2 separate regions of the Homo sapiens genome follow, and region 1 is reported to be linked to region 2. Evidence: microRNA targets listed by miRTarBase, many of them from high-throughput screens and not tested one by one. Region 2 holds a microRNA gene; the other region holds the end of a gene's coding sequence.

The links. Region 2 holds the annotated microRNA hsa-miR-4677-3p (UCUGUGAGACCAAAGAACUACU, at 1,728-1,749, shown strand). A microRNA usually pairs through its seed, bases 2 to 8, with sites in the 3' UTR of a target mRNA and lowers its output. Matches are read on the target gene's strand: a 7mer-m8 pairs with bases 2 to 8, a 7mer-A1 pairs with bases 2 to 7 and ends in A, and an 8mer does both.
Region 1: miRTarBase lists BCL2L14 as a target of hsa-miR-4677-3p. The part of its 3' UTR that is shown has no 7-base or 8-base seed match.

What each region holds. Positions count from the first base shown.
Region 1 is chr12:12,098,222-12,101,638 of GRCh38, reverse strand. BCL2L14 (BCL2 like 14) reads right to left here. Exons shown (of 6, transcript NM_138723.2): 6 at 1,944-2,689. The coding sequence ends at 2,651. Among named protein-coding and RNA genes, the nearest start is that of MIR1244-4, 12 kb to the left of the region's middle.
Region 2 is chr1:243,344,498-243,347,914 of GRCh38, forward strand. It overlaps MIR4677 (microRNA 4677), which reads left to right and starts at 1,679; the gene lies at 1,679-1,758. All of the region lies in intron 12 of SDCCAG8 (SHH signaling and ciliogenesis regulator SDCCAG8), which reads left to right.

The sequences.
Region 1 (3,417 bases), not on the chromosome of region 2:
TCTGAATACCTAAGGGGAAATATCTGCAGGTCTCTGGAGCTTTGTGTGCCTCTCTCTTTCATCCTTTATCAGACTTGCAAACTTCAGCTGCTCTGATCTTTCTGGACTCCTAGCTCTATCCTCTCTACTCAGGGAGCTGGTGAACTCTGCGTGGGTTCCCCTCTCTCCAGCATGACCTAGAAACTCTTTGCATGCAGTACTCTAGGGCAAACATAGGGCTCACTTAGAGTCTCATCTCTCAGGGACCAGTTCTCTAAAAGGAGACTCCTAGCCAGACGCGGTGGCTCACGCCTGTAATCCCAGCACTTTGGGAGGCTGAGGCAGGCAGATCACGAGGTCAGGAGATCGAGACCATCCTGGCTAACACAGTGAAACCCCGTCTCTACTAAAAATACAAAAAAAAAAAAAAATTACCTAATGTCCAATGCCTTGAAAATCATTCTCATCTATAGTGTCTTTTTTTTTTTTTAGTTGTTTCAAGCAGGAGATTAAATCTCGTTAGTTACTTCATCTTGACCACAAGCCATAGATGATATTGGAAACACATGGAGAGCTTGTTGTAAGTACACATATCTTAGGGCATATTCCAGTCATACTGATTTACAAGCTGTATCAGTCAGACGAGGGTATGGTTCTGCAACTGTGTGCCAAAACTATGCCAGGCACTAGATATATAAAGTTAAATTAGGCATAGTACCTGTTTGCAAACGACTTTACAATCCACTGAGAAAGACTGGGTAAACCAAATCTTACGGTGCAATATATTAAGCATAATGTCTACATGCAGGGTGATTTGGAGCATCTTATGAGAAAAGGCATCCAAATATAGCCACATGATGGCCAAGGGAGGGTTAGCAAATGAGTCCTGGAGGAAACTGAGGAAATTTGGAAAGATGAGCTAGAGTTAGTTGTTTTAGTGGAAACAGGGGGAAAGGAAGCCATCATGCAAGAACACTCCAAGTAGAGAGGATACTGTTATGAAGGCTCAGAGGTGCCAGGTTGCATAATACCTTTGGGGAACTGCAAAAAGTTTGGAATGGCGAGATCAGAGTGGATGGAGGAAGAGGTGGTCTTCAGTGTCTCCATGTCTAAAAGGAGACTCCTGGCTGGGTGTGGTGGCTCACGCCTGTAATCCCAGCACTTTGGGAGGCCAAGGCGGGCAGATCACGAGGTCAGGAGATCTAGACCATCCTGGCTAACATGGTGAAACCCCGTCTCTACTAAAAATACAAAAAAAAAAATTAGCCGGGCATGGTGGCGGGTGCCTGTAATCTCAGCTACCTGGGAGGCTGAGACAGGAGAATTGCTTGAACCCAGGAGGCGGAGGTTGCAGTGAGCCGAGATCACGCCACTGCACTGCAGCCTGGGTGACAGAGCGAGAGTCTGTCTCAAAACAAAACAAAACAAACAAACAAACAAAAAATGGAGACTCCTCTATCCCTAACAGTGATGACTTTCATGTGGGAGAAGAAAACAAAAGAGAATAACTCATTTTATTGAGATGGGTAGGCTAGTGAAGCATTTGATAATAGATAGATCCAGTTTTCCCTTGAACCTGAGAGTATGTCTGACTTACTGACTTGTTTGTTCTTCAAAGTTTTATTAAGCACCAGTTTTACATCAGGCCATATGCTGGGTACTACATATCCAGAAATTTGTAAGACCTTATAATTTGATAGTATTTTTTAAATTGTTTTGTGTCTTAAACACTTACTATTGAGCATGTTTCTAAAAAACCTTATACCGAACAGCCGCAATCTCAGGAAAGCAATCAGTGACTGCGTTGACAGGAGAGGAAATTGGCAGCTTAGCTGAGGGCAGCACACATTAGGGACCATAAGTGAAGACTTAACATTAAGTACCAAGAAGTGTTCTGAGCATTTTATGTAAATTAACTCATTTGATAATCAGAAGACTTATTACTTACTAATCAGAAGACACTCTTTTGACAGTAGTCTTTCTATGTATTTATTTTACCTGCTACCAATCATTGTACTACCACAAAGAATGAGGAAGTCCCAGGGACCTTGGGAAGAAGAGGTGTGGTCCCTGAGAAAAGGGTTGAGGGGGTGTTGGAGTAAAAATTTTGTACCAAATGGAAGTTTTTCAAAAAGGCACAGACAACAGTTACCTCTCCAAACAAATGGATGTAGCAGTAAACCTAAGAGTTTCTTTAGGCTGTTTACTAACGTGAATAGCAACATCTTCCTAGGTATTAGGCCACCCCAAGTGTAGTTTAAAAATAAATAGTACTAGAAACGGAAGTGGAAACACATGCACAGTTTATCTTTTCACTCTTGTGAGGTCAGCAGACATCTGTAACGCACTTTCCCTACAGCAGCTAACAAAGGCAGGATGATGGTATCTGTTCTGAACGTTTGAAACAACATCACCACTTATCTTTACAGATTTCCTCAGGTTCTCAATGGAGGGCCTGAAAAACATCACTGTCAAGGATGATGCTGCTACATTTTATGAGCTGGAGACGAACGAGACCTCTCCTGATGCCTCTCCAGTCACAGGAATAATGGTTTTGAAAACGTCAATGCTCCATCTGCCTTGTACGTTGTAATCTCCTGTAGTCCATCTGAGGCCAACGTGCACAGGACCACAGTAGACAAAGAGTATTCCTGATGACAAATCTGATATTTCAGTCTACTTCTTCATGTGATATCCCAAGTATTTTTTCCTAGAGGGGAAAAATAGGTTCTTAAAATTCCAAGTTAGATTTACTGTTGAAGTGAAAACATATGGCTGCTAACTCTGCTCTATCCCAGGCGTGACCCGAGGCTCAGGAGACCATGTTAGTTTGGGGGAGGGTTTGGAGAGGTGACTGGCATTCTTGGTATGCCTGCAAGGAAGACATCAGCTAAGGTCTTACGTTACACACCCAGAGCTAACAGGCTGGATCTTTCCTTGAAGATGGGAGGGCTTCAAGGGTGTATTTAAAATGTAATAAAAGTGGGTACTGAAAGGTCAATGACTATGAAGGTTACAACTCTCTCCTTTCAAAGTGCTACAGAATGGGTGAGGTTGCAGGACTGCAGGGTAACTATGTGAATGGTGCTCCACAGAGAGCACAAAGAGCCAAGGAGTAAATCAGAATCTCGTGGTAGCTTGTTTGGCATGCCTTGTAGATAGAGTTGCTATTCATTCATTTGATCGATTCATTCACCGTTCTACAAGTACTGGCTGAACATCTATGGTGTTATGTAGAGGAATGGGAGCTATGGGAGATTAAAGGAGCCATCATAAAAACATGATCTCACCCTTACAGATTTGCAGTTTAGTTGGGAAGATGAGATGTACTCATATGAAATGTGGAATACTGAGATAGGAACCCTGAGCTTCTGGAAAGCTTGTGCATGGGACTAGATTTCTCTCCTCCCACACTACTACAAGGACAGCAGAGAGAGC
Region 2 (3,417 bases):
CACCTTTCACATGAATGGTGAGAATACAACAGCATGCATATAAAATTCCAATCTGACAGGTCATAAATATACATTTGGATATGTGTATCTATTACTTACAAAAGTAAAAAGAAATGTTCTAATGCACAGTTTGAACCTAAAATATACATACATAAAGTTCTTGAAAGATGCCAACTTGAATCCAATTTTAAATGAAAAAGTTTAAAATTCGTAAGATGAGATGAGTTGATATGTAAATATGTCAATCAAATTGATTGTTGGCAGAGTGAAACCAGTTTTAACTAAGATAACCATGAATACGTTTGTTCATGAAGCCTAAATACAGTGACATTAGAAATGTTAGTGGATAAAAGCTGCGTACTTTAATTTCAGTTTGAACAGATGTTTTATGTTATATCTTTATTGAGATGAAGTAGATAACTCCAATTTTAGTTGACAACATGGATAAAGTTTTTAGAGAGGCAGTTCTAATAGGCTGACTTTTGATTTTCTATTTTTATGTTACAGTACAGGACCTTGAAGGTTTTCATTCTTTGTATTCAATGAAAGCAGGTTGTTTATTCAATTAAAATAGTAAGACTGGGTTCTTAGTGTCAATATTTTAAAATAATTGTTTTAGAATTTAGAAGTAGGTCGCTCCAAATAAGTTTTTTTTCAAATATGTTTCTAGTTCGAGGTTTTTCATCATATTTTCCAACATATTTTCTCTTTTGAGCCAATGAAGTCTTTACAACAAATGATGCAAAGACAATTGGGAAAAGTATTGAAAATGAAAGTGATAATGAAGACTAGAACAAAAAGCTTTTCAAGTCATAACTGAAATCCTTAGTACTAAATTAAAATCCTGGCAACCAAAGTAAAATTCTGCTTTTGTACCACTATATTTGGTGTTGTAATGGGTTTTACATTTTCAGAAGACTTTTAATTATTAACATGTACAAATAATGAAACATTTTATTGCATCCAGTTGGGGGCGTGCCTGATAGTGGAATGGAAAATGCTTTCTGTCAGGGACTGAAGGCCTAGGTCTACTAAGTTTATCACAGATAACTTTTCTTTCCTGATATATTGTAATTTTTTAAAAAGGAATCAATATATTGGCATACTTTTGGCCTTTCGTATTATTCTACAGCATTCTGACAGCATAATATTTTGGACTAACTGCAAAAATACATCAGGAAAGAGTCTCAGTTATTTAAAATTCCATTATAATTTTCTAGAGGAAAAAAGATCAGGGACAATAGGAGTATAATATCACTTGTAAAGGAATAACTTGTTTAGAAGCATTTGCAATATTAGAAGTATTTGCAGTATTAAATCTCATTTTAATTAATCCGTGATGGTATGGAGGCTAAAGTTGCAGGATTTACAAGGAGCAGTTTTCATTTGTAAACGTTTTCTGATAATAGTGAAACAATAGTAGTTTTCATAATGACGTTTAGTGGTATGTTTTTAGATAGAGATGTGCCTTTTTAGGAGGTCACAGCTTTAGGAATAAAACCTCTGAACAGTTACAAGATGTTTGTGATGTGTTGTGAAGTGATGTGCTTGTTACCATTTTTTTTTCCCAGACGGAATGTGAGGAAATCTTATAGGTACTCTTTTTAACTGTTTTGTATTGAACAGACAGTTTCAGAAAAGAAGTCGTGGTGTCTCATTCCATGGATGATTTGGAGTAGCAAAGCAGCAATTGTTCTTTGGTCTTTCAGCCATGACCTGACCTTCTGTCTGTGAGACCAAAGAACTACTTTGCTTGGCCACCATCTGCACTCAAGAGAGAAATTTACATTTAACTTTTAAAAGCGGGGCATGTTGAGCATTTATCTGAAATACCTACAATAATATAAAGTAGATTAAATGTTTAAGTGTTGTGTATCTTACAATTCAGCATCACAAGCAGGCTATCTGTAGGTTTGCAAACAAGGTGTTCTTCATAATATAGTCATTTTATTCATATTTTAGTTCATCTGACCACTTGATACATTTTTAAAGTGGGTGGGAAACTGTGAGATTGGAATGTGTGAGAACAACAGCTTTTTTGATGTATACAAAATAGGGCAAATGGTTAACCACCAAAATAATTTTCCTTGTGACCTGAGCCTTGGCTCTGGCATAATTAGAAGGAAAGGTTAGGAGAGTAACAATGGCAGTCGCTTCCACCCACTTTCTTCTTTTCTTCTTTATATTGTGTCAGGAACCGATGGGCGGATTATCCTTCCCATCAACTCCTTTGTATCTCTTCAGCTTAGAGAATTCCTGTCAGCCTCAGAGGATGCTTCTTGCACCAGAAAAAGAGGCATTTGGTATGGAGGAGAATGTGAAATATGCTCTTTGATTTTTATGAGAAATTTTTTTAGGCAATGGTTATACACACACACACACTCGATCAGGGGAATTTAAAAACATGTATGAGGGTATAGGGAATATTGTAATGAGTCCTCACATTTCCATCACCTACACTCATCATTTTGCCCGTCCTCTTCCTCAGTCCTATTCCATCACTCATCATTTTGCCAGTCCCCTTCCTCAATCCTATTCCATCACTCATCATTTTGCCAGTCCTCCTCCTCAATCCTATTCCATCTATCTCACTTTTTTCTCTCTACTTCTGTCCTCATCGTCACCTTCATCTTCTTTGTCATGTTTTTTCTGCTCCACCTTCTCATCTTCATCTTCTTCTGTCTTCTTCCTCTACCTCTTTTTCTTCTTTTGCAGAAGTATTTTAAATGGATCTCAGACCTTATGTTATTTTACTCATAAATACCCATGTGGATCTATGAAGGATATTTTTACATACTATGTCATTATCATACCTAACAATGTTAACAATACTTCTTTAATATCAAATAACACCCAGCCTATATTCACATTTCTTTGTCTCAAAAATGTTGATTTTACAGTTGGTTTATTCAAATTAGGAGAACAAGTATGTTTTTGTATGTCCAATTTTCTGGTGTTACCCTTTTTAATAGGAAATAAACAGAACTCTTAGTAAAATTTCATCTTTCTTTGTTGTTGTCTGTTAAATTTTGTACATAATGTTTTGATTATGCTTTATTTTTATAAAATGCCTCATTGTCATTCTAAAGAGGTATAAATTAATCCTACAGCAAAGTATGTGAAGGAAATGGCTACCACGCAGCATTCCTGATAATCATATCCCAAAAGGAGCTTCCTCGCATCCGAAACCCCAAATTCAGCATTAATTTCACAGCCTTGTATTTAAGATTTGGACATGTTGCAGGAGGCCCTAACATGACAAGGATGAGCTGACCTGAAATGAGTGATGCAGAAATAGAGTTTTTTTGTCAACTTCCCTTTTGGTAAATTAATCTGAGAAGACGATTCTTTATAGCCGCTAACCTTTGATTAGGGCCCAGTGCAAAGTGAAAATACAGGACCCTTTTGTTCAGAAAG